Linked DNA regions of Homo sapiens. The protein of the gene in region 2 interacts with the protein of the main gene of each other region in a biochemical or structural test. Each region holds a gene or a part of one and is shown on either strand. Other genes may lie near its edges. The genes, in order: MEP1A and GNRH1.

What was found.
Region 1: of the proteins of GNRH1 (region 2) and MEP1A, one has a biochemical effect on the other in vitro, tested with the Homo sapiens proteins (one study listed by BioGRID).

Annotation. Positions count from the first base shown.
Region 1 is NC_000006.12:46,831,315-46,838,624, reverse strand, and holds part of MEP1A (meprin A subunit alpha precursor), read right to left. Parts: intron 5,552-7,310; coding exon 5,087-5,551; intron 4,048-5,086; coding exon 3,874-4,047; intron 3,377-3,873; coding exon 3,076-3,376; intron 1-3,075.
Region 2 is NC_000008.11:25,418,522-25,421,335, reverse strand, and holds the end of GNRH1 (progonadoliberin-1 isoform 2 preproprotein), read left to right. Parts: intron 1-1,875; coding exon 1,876-1,917; 3' UTR 1,918-2,078; downstream 2,079-2,814. UniProt on the Homo sapiens protein: Stimulates the secretion of gonadotropins; it stimulates the secretion of both luteinizing and follicle-stimulating hormones.

The DNA.
Region 1 (7,310 bases), on a different chromosome or scaffold from region 2:
CTTAAAGGAATACATTGCCTGACACTGGCTGAGAATATAAGCTACAAAGGAAATTCCCCAGATATAGACCGACTTAGAGCATCAGTGGTAACTTAAAAACTTCTAAATAATATCAAATAAAATGTTACTATAAGGTTAGTGTACTGTCACTATCTCACGAGGTTGCCCTGAAGTTCACATGAGATAATGAGGACACTGTACTTATCAAGGTATTTAACACAGAGTAAGCACATAATGGCCAGCCCTTAGTTTTGTTTCTTAATGTTATCTGGTATAAAGATCAACTAATCTCATAACCAAGGCATATAACTTGTAGTGTCTCATCCATACCTTTGTAACAATTCCAGCCTTTGTTTCAAACATTCCTACTAGAAGGTCTACTCAGCAGAATTCTACAGAGCAGAGTGAAACAATTAGAAGTCAGCATTTTCTGGTTGGGCATGGTGGCATACGCCTGTAATACCAGCACTTTGGGAGGCCGGGTGGATCACCTGAGGTCAGGAGTTTGAGATCAGCCTGGCCAAGATGGTCTCATCTCTACTAAAAATACCAAAAAAAAAAAAAAAATAGCCAGACATGGTGGTGGGCACCTGTAATCCCAGCTACTCGGGAGGCTGAGGCAGTAGAATTGCTTGAACCCGGGGGGTGGAAGTTGCAGTGAGCTGAAATCGTGCCATTGCACTCCAGCCTGGGTGACAAGAGCAAAAACTGTCTCAAAAAAAAAAAAAATAAGAAGTCAGCATTTTCTTTTACTAATCCTGAATGATTTTACCTTCCAAGGCCTCATCTCTATCCTGAGAATTGACTTCTTAGAAATCAGTGAGTAATAGCAAGTTTATTTCATTTTTTTCTGACCCAGTCCTCTCCAAACACAACTTAGTGATATCCCCTAGTGTTACCTTAGAAAAACTTATTCTGCCAACTCTCAGCTGCAGGTTTCTAGGAGAGCAATAGTTTGGCTGAGTGGAGGCTGACATACAAGTGGCAGCCCTGGCCTCCCTTAGCCTGGGAAGGATGAAGCCTGTTGGGGACACATAATGGAATCTGGCATCTAAGGGCCTGTCAGGCAAAGATATGCAGACCTATGGCTTTGGAGCCCAGAAACAGATGGGCCTTCCCCAGTAAAAGGAACCAGAGGGCTTCTTGGAAGAGTGATTGATTCTATGGGTGGGGCAGGAAAAATTAAAGATGAGCCTAGAGCATGTTATGGTGCCAGAAAGTAACATTGTGTTCATAAAATCTGATGTTGAAAGAGCACAGGAGCCAACCTGGAAGAGCTCCCAAAGGCCAAAGCTGGGACAATAGAAGCAACAAAATAAATCATGAAATTATTGCAACAGAGCCCACTGAATAAAATTAATGTTTATGATTCCTTCGTGATGTGAATAAACAATCACATAAACAAATTAACGGGGTGAAGGTGCCATTCTTCTTTACAGGAGATTATAATTAATGAATGTGAAGGATATAGGAAATCAACATTAGAAGATCTCAGTGGTGAGTATTGCAGCAGGATGTGTCAACAGATGCTGAAATTAGTGTGTGAGGATTTGAGGAAAAGCAGAATGTCTCCATGGTCTTGGAATATCTCTCCCAATATACGTATTAATTACAGAGGGAGAAATGGTAACTCTTCAGTGGAGAGGCCTGGTGGACATGCTGTTGGCCAGATAATGAAGGTTGACATCACCAGTAATGACATGTATAGGCATCATGTACCTGTTCACACGCTGCAGCGAGAAGGCATAGCACATCTTTACTAATCTTGCCACAAATGTGAAACTTCAATCTAATCATGTAAGAACAAGATGAACCAAAAAAAAAAAAAAAATCCCTGACCAGTAATCTTCGAAAGTGTCAAGGTAATGAAGGACAAGAAAGAACTGAGGAATTGTCCCAAATTGGAGGGGATTAGGAGACAGGAGACATAAAAGCTAAATGTAATGTGAGATCCAGAATTGGATCCTGAAATAGAAAAAGAACATTAGTGGGAAAACTGGGAAGAGCTGAATAAGGCCTGTAATTTATTTACTAGCATTGTACCAATGTTCATTTCTTGGCTATGCTAATTGTACTATGGTTTGTGTAATATGCTAACATTAGGGAAAGCTGGGTGAATGGTATAGAGAAAACCTCTGTAGTATTTTTGCATTGTATCTGTAAGTCTAAAATTATTTCAAAATAAAAGCTACAAAAAGAGAAAAAAAAGGAGACTAAAAAGAACTCAGAAGAAATGTAAATTTTTGAGGCAGGCAGAATAGCTTCTACATCTGCTACTGTTCAAATGGAACTGTTGCTTCTGTCATCACATACCTCCTTTTGTGAAACAGTTTTTAGGGTTTTATGCAAGCAAACATTATAAAAAGAACTATAAAATATAGCAAACTGTGCTGCCAGACAGACCTAGATGCAAGTCCCAGCTTCAGCATTTTCCATCTGGGTACATTTTAGATAAATTACTTAATCTTTCTAAGCTTCAACTTCTTGACACACTAAACGGGGATAAGGAGAGCCCTTATGTCACAGGTGGCAGTGAGAATGAATTTAGATCATGCGTGTAAGATGCTCAGGAGACTACATGATGCATAACAAGGGGTCAGAAATATCAGGTGTTCTTACTACTATTATTGAAAATATAACTGTAATAATAGTACAGTGTAAATGACAGACTATAGAACTAATAATAATTAGGAACTAATAACATCTGTAGTCAGCAAAGATTTAAGCTTGGTCTTGAGACCCACCCTCATGGAGTAGAAAGTCCCTAGGCTAGAAGCCATCTTGGGTGTTGTTAGAGTTAGAAATTCCAACAACATCCAAGATGCTGTTGACAATACCCCAGAAGAGGGGAAAAGGGGTGAAAGTCAAGAGACAAGGTGACCTGGGAAGCCTCTGTCCTGGCAGCATAAGCCCATGAATCCAGGGCACACCTTTGTAGAGTCAAAGAAAACCGCATTCAGTTGACCATCTGAGGTAGTCTTCGCCCTACTCTGCAAACAGCAGCCTTTACCAGGAGCAAGCATGCACACGGCCCAGGTCTGCTGGCCTGCCTGTCTCCCCAGCCACAGAGCCTACCTGCAGCTCGCCATCCCCTTCACGTTCACACAGATGCCGTCATTTTGGCAAGGGTTTGGGTCACATGGGTCTCTGAAGTACTGTGGCCAGTTATGGTCCTCCAGGGGGCCTGTGTTCTCCACCGACCGCTTCTGTCGGCTGGGCTGCCCCTGGCTCAGGCTGACAGGTAGGGCTTCCTCTAACATGGCCTTTCCCGAACCTTCTTCGGAGACCTGCTGCTCCTGGCCTTGGAGAATGAGGCCTTGGGGGCTCAGTCTTTTGCCTTTAGTGGGAACTTCAGTCTGGCTGAGGTGGGTGATATCTTCAGGAAATAGAGAGTCATGAGGAAGATCCAGGATTAGTAACTGACTACAATTAACTCCCACTTCTGGTGAAAGTTCCCCAGCCTGCTTCTATCTCCCATCACCCCTAGTGACATGGAAAAGTGGCTTTGAATCCAGCTGATTCCCACAGTATTAGCTACTTTTATTTTAAAGTAATCCAGTCACATTTTTATTTATTGAATTTGCAAAATGAAGCATAAAATTAGCATGGATAGGCTGATGGAAACTAAATTGAAATCAGTGAACGGTTACCTCTGATAAAATTATCAAAAAGATGACACTAAAATTTCAGTTTCTTTCAAGGACAATTAAAATAAAGATGTGAGTCCTTGACCAATTGAATAAAATGTGATTCTCCTACAACACATTGTTTTAACCTCATCCCCACCCTCCGTGTGTGCTTTAAAAATCAGGATAAAATCAGTAGAGTGCCAAGAGCATAGGATTATTTACTCAGGAAGACCAACAAAAGTACCTTCAAAGTCCACAAATATGATGAGGTCATCATTTTTCAGGAAACTCCTCCTTTTCAGCATTTGGTGGGAAATGAAACCACTCCAGCCCAAGTCGATGCTTCTAAAACAATTACAGTCCGTATGATAGGTTCCCACCCTGGACGGCCTGTCCCAGATGACAGTGTCATTTATCGCTGCAAAGTTGTAGGTAACATAAAATCACATTACCTCTTTAGACTTCACTTTCCAGTTTGTCTTTAATGAGGATACAGGGCTTTGTGAATCAGAAATAAATAAATAAATAAATAAATAAATAAATAAATAAATAAATAAATATAAAAATAAAAAAAGTGTTGGAAAAAAATTAGGCTATTTACTATTTCCAGGAGAATTGCAATTCAGAATTGAAAGATGGGAGAGGCAGAGAATCACAGCTCTGAGTGATCAGTTGTCTGCTACTGAGCGACTTTCTTAATGAAAAGAGAGGGACAGCTACGGCTTCTTTCTTCTAAGGCTTAAGTCTTCTCTTTTGAAAAAAAAAAAAATTAGTGCCAGGCGTGGTGGCTCACGCCTGTAATCCTAGCACTTTGGGAGGCCAAAGCGGGTGGATTGCCTGAGCTCAGGAGTTCAAGACCAGCCTGGGCAACACGGTGAAACCCCATCTCTACTCGGGAGTCTGAGACAGAAGAATTGTTTGAACCTGGGAGGTGGAGGTTGCAGTGAGCCGAGAATGCGCCATTACATTGCAGCCTGGGCGACAGAGGGAGACTCCATCTCAAAAAAAAAAAAAAAATAGTTTGCCCATTTCTTTACTGATGTAAGTTTACTTCATGAACATAGTAACATTGAGTACTATTTTAGGAGTAAGTACATTAGCTCTGCACAGAGCCCAGCAAGTTCCAAGTATTTGATAAATGATTAGCAGTATCTATTTCCTCAATCACAACGAGCTCAGTGAGGCAGGGATCACCTGATTCACTTGTATTCTAAGTACCTAGCACCGACTTTGGCACATGGTAAGCCCTCAATAGATGTTTGATGAGTGAATTTAGGAAAGGGAAGGAGGATGTGATGGCATTGAAAATCTTGACTTGAAACTCCAACAAGACTATGTTATTGGTATTCCCAAACAGACAATGTGAGGAGAACGTTACTCTTTCTTGCACCACAGAATCACATCTGTGGGCCTCTCTGGTTCAAGGGGCAGTTCTTATTTGCGCTGACACCACCCACCTGGAGATGTGTGCGACTTCGAGGTAGTGAACACCATGCTTGAGGACATCCTGTTCCGGACATCAGGCTCCTGGTCAAGGATGGTAATTATCACCTGTCTGTTTTCTACCGGCCACTCCAGGATAGCATCGTTCTCCCCACTGCACACATGAAAAGCAAGTCTCAAGTAACCAGAGCTTTCTCTGCTATTTGGGTATAAAGTTACCCCAAAACCATATCCCTCCGAATTGTAGAATCGAGGGCTCTGAAGCTTGTCCCCTTTGCTGGTGTTCTCAAGGACTTGGGAGAAATTCCGGACTGTCCAGACCCCTGTGGGGCAGGGGGTTTCTGTCAGAGTGATGTCATCTAGGTAAATTCCCCCAGTTGAGTTCTGAGGGTCGCCTTTTGTGCCCTGGAAAAGGTAGCGAAACTTCTGTTCCTCTTTGAGCACCACATGGGCAATTTTCCAATTGTGGTCATCATCTCCTGAGGACAGAGAACAAGGCTGGTGAGAACTGTGACCAACACTTAATGAGTACTTATTATGAGTTTGGCACAGTGCCATGTGCTTTCCATAAATTATCTCATTAAATCCTCACAACAGCCCTATAAAATAGGTACTGTTATAAACTGGTTAAGTAACTTTTCCAAAGTTACATACCTAATAAGGAAAAATTGTTTTTTAAAATACTATGATTTATTTTAAAATTCACATTCAAATCTTAACCGTGAATTTGTTTTCCACTATAAGAATCCAGGTTCTGGATTTCCTCCTGAGTTGGCTGGTTCAACTGTAACCCCTAAGGTTAGCAAAGAAAACCCAAGTGTTAGGCTGAATCATATAAAATAGCCATTTTCTAAGCCAAAAGTAAAAAAAATAGTAACTCCATATGGTCCGACCTGTCACTTGTTGCCAGAGAGCTATAAGGAATGCTGAAGAGCAGATAATAACCTGTAGGACTGACTGGATCTTCCCTACCTAAAACTGACTCCCTCTCCAACATCTAGACTTTTTTCTCTTCCTTATATTATCTGAAAGTCCACCATGTAGGGGAGCAAAGTAAGCCAAATAGAGTACTATTGTCTGGAAATGCACGTTCTAATAAAGATTAGGTCTACTTGCTTTTTCTCTGAGCATGAACTAGAAGTGGGACTTTCGAATTAAGAGCTGAGGAAAGATGGTGAGAAGGCCGTTCTAGAACATAGGATCCTGGGTTGAACAGTATAAGAAGCCAGACAGGAGCTTGGGGGTACTGGAGAGAGGAAACTGCGAAAGCAAAGCAACTCAATTCCGCAAAGAGATGTGCCTACACTGATATTTTTGCACAGGGTATTCCCTAGAGTTGGGCTTGAAGAGGAGAGGAAAAATGCTTCCAAGTGGAAGTCATGTTGGCTAAACTGAGTTCCTACAGATGAGTGTCTTTTTTCCTTCTTCTGTGTCTTTTAACCAGATATCTACTTATAGAACTATACTTTCCCTGAAAAGGAAAAGACCTTTAATCTCCCTTGTGTTTTCAGGCCATTCTCTCTAAGTACAACTTCAAGGGACAGGTCTAACAATGTTCTGTTTCTTAGGGTGGAGCTGATTATGGCCTGTGTGGTTAGGTTACATGGGAACACAGGAGAGAGGTAGGTTACATGGGAACACAGGAGAGAGGTAGAGAAGGCACACGACCACCTCTGTAACATACAAATCTAGGCAGCTGCCCTCTCCTGCGGAGAGCATGGCAGCCTAGTGGAAGACACATGGACTTGAAGGGTAATAGGTGCCAGAAAGTCTAGGAATAGGAACAGAGATATAGGATTTGAACTATTTATCCAGCAGGTTATAGATCATGGGAATTCTGTCAAGAGAATAGGATTCTGTTCTTGCTGATTAGTACCTGCTTTGTTTTTTCTTAATATAGGATGTCAAAATGAGGTTGAGATGGGGGAATCTGGCACTGGGAAGGAGACCCAAGAGGCTATACCACATAGGCAGAAATTCATCTATGAAATTATTAAGATGGTTTCGTTTACATGCTTCCACAGGGCTGCCCTAAATCAGTCAGGCAATAATGCTACTACGATTGTTTGAGACAAATTTAATCCCTGTTAGTTCAGAATTGTCTTCTATAAGGAAGTCCTGGCCTCAGTAAAAACGTGTGTGTGTGCATGTGTGTGTACATACACATAGTTGTATGCCAACATTTTTCATGTAAGTTTGTATATAAGCATTATGTATGTAACATATATTATATACAGA
Region 2 (2,814 bases):
CTGTAACTTTTATCTCTTAATCCTGGTTCTAGCTTTTGGGATAACTAACAAAACAAATTTCTTCCCACTGCTGCATTTCATTTCTTCAAGTAAAATCACCAAACCCCCTAGACTACTCCACTCCAGGCTACTCCACAGCCCTCCACCTGATCCTGCAACTGTGCTTTATCTTACATGGTTTTCCAGAACCTTGGGGAATAGAGACATGAGAAACACTGCTGTAGATGGGTTTTTTTTTCTCTTCTTTGGAATGAAAAATGCCAAACTACTAAATTTATAATTTAGAGAGTGATGGACTTGATTTCCAGTTTCCTGATAGGACAATAATCACCTCCAAATTCCGCCCCCCAAAATGGAAATACACTAATCATATTAGGTTTTTGATGAAAAAGTATAAAGAGAATTGAATGTATAAATTGAATCTTTTAAAAAAATTATTTGTTGAGACAGGATCTTGCTCTGTTCCCCGGGCTAGAGTGCAATGGTGCAATCAATGCTCACCACAGCCTCAACCTCCCAGGCTCAAGCAATTCTGGAGACTAGATTAGCCTCTCTAGTAGCTGGGACTATAAGCACTTGCCACCACACCCAGCTGATTTTATTTTTTAATTTTTTGTAGAGACAGGGTCTATGTTGCCCAGGCTGGTCTCAAACTCCCAGCCTCAAGATCCTCCCAAAGTGCTGGGATTAAAGGTGCAAGCCACTGTGCCTGACTTAAGTTGAATCTTGGATTCAATGTTGATATTCTCTGATCTCTATTGTCCACTTATCTGCAGCAATCAGAAGGCATTACAGTTAATGATCAGTTATGCCTAGGAGCTGGGAAAGCCCAAATAAATCATATATAAAAATAAGCTGTAATTTTAATTGTCTACAGTGACTTCAACTTAATATACCCACAGAACAAAGAAAAAAGTGGGCAGACGTCGTTATTTCCTTTTTCGTTTTTTTTGGAGTGCAGTGGCGCAATCTCGGCTCAATGCAACCTCCATCTCCTGGGTTCAAGCGATTCTCCTGACTCAGCCTCCCGAGTAGCTGAGATTACAGGCATGAGCCACCACACTGGACTAATTTTTGTATTTTTAGTAGAGATGGGGTTTCACCATGTTGGCCAGGATGGTCTCAATCCCTTAACCTTGTGATCCGCCCACCTCGGCCTCCCAAAGTGCTGGGATTACAGGCATGAGCCACCACGCCCAGCCTATTTCCTTTCTTTTTCTAATCTTGCTTACTGCATTACAAAAATGGCAAGCAGTGAAATTTGTCAAACATGACATTATGAAGAAATTGAAGCAAAGGCTGGTTTAATAGCAAAGTAATTGACCAGACTTTTTTTTCACTTCCTTCCTCACAACTCATCCTTAAACTATTAATGTAGATTTTATGTATATTAAGTGCTTAAAAAGACCCAATCGGCCAGGCACAGTGGCTCATGCCTGTAATCCTAGCATTTTGGGAAGCCGAGGTAAGTGGATCACTTGAGGCCAGGAGTTCAAGACCAGCCTGGCCAACATGGTGACACCCTGTCTCTACTAAAACTATAAAAATTAGCCAGATGCGGTGATGCATGCCTGCAATCCCAACTACTAGAGAGGCTGAGGCACGAGAATCATTTGAACCTGGAAGGTGGAGGTTGCCATGAGCTGAGATCATACTACTGCACTCCAGCCTGGGTGACAGAGTGAGGTTCTGTCTCAAAAAAAAAAAAAACCAGAAAAACAAACCCAATTTATCATGTCTCCCTAGCACTAACTAGAGCACAAAATCAAACAGACCAATTCCTTCCAGACTGATATTTTAGAAATTAAAATGTCAAAATGTAATGAAATTCAGCTGGTAAAGTCAGTCTTGATATATTTGTTATATATTTTTCAGGAAAGTCTGATTGAAGAGGAAACTGGGCAGAAGAAGATTTAAATCCATTGGGCCAGAAGGAATGACCATTACTAACATGACTTAAGTATAATTCTGACATTGAAAATTTATAACCCATTAAATACCTGTAAATGGTATGAATTTCAGAAATCCTTACACCAAGTTGCACATATTCCATAATAAAGTGCTGTGTTGTGAATGAAGTGGCATACCTGTTAAATCTTTCTCCAACTCAGAACTCCGGGGGAAGGATCACTGTAAACCCACCAAAGGGAGCCCTCCATGTGTGTATACAGGTGGCAGATGGGAGGGCAGGTAAGATAAAGTGTCTGTTGTTGACAAAAGGGATCTCAGGCTCTCCAGCACCCATACCCTGCATCTACCCACAAGCAGAACAGCCACATACTGGTCCAGCCAGAAAAAGCTGATTCAGCTCCAGTTTCTCTGGGATTATAACTTTATCTTCGACCATACTCTTCAGAAGTTGAGGTGGGGCCACGGCCAAGGCTTTCTTCCACTTGGAAAGAAGTTCCCTCCCTTGATCGTCTCCAAACCCTTTGAAAGTTTACTGGAACCCAAATGAGGCCTGGGGGTAAGGAGAGGGGGCCTCCAAGGACTCCTAGTCCAGCGCTCCTTCTGGTCCCACGCAATCTATCCAAGTGGTGCACACTGAGGGTTGGGACTGAGACCTAAAAAATAATAGAGTGTTCATCTGCTTGATCTGTTTGGTTTGCATTTAAGAAACACAATGGAGTACAGACAGACCGTTGGAGATGGGACTCTATTGTTCCTATGTCCCCTGGTCAGATAGCATTGCCACCATTCTTTCTCCAAAAAGACCAGGGGCAGGCTTTGTGCTACATATGTGCACAGATATTTTTACTAACCATCATAAGAACCTTGGATTGTAGTTAGTATTGCCTTTGCTTTAAAATGAGG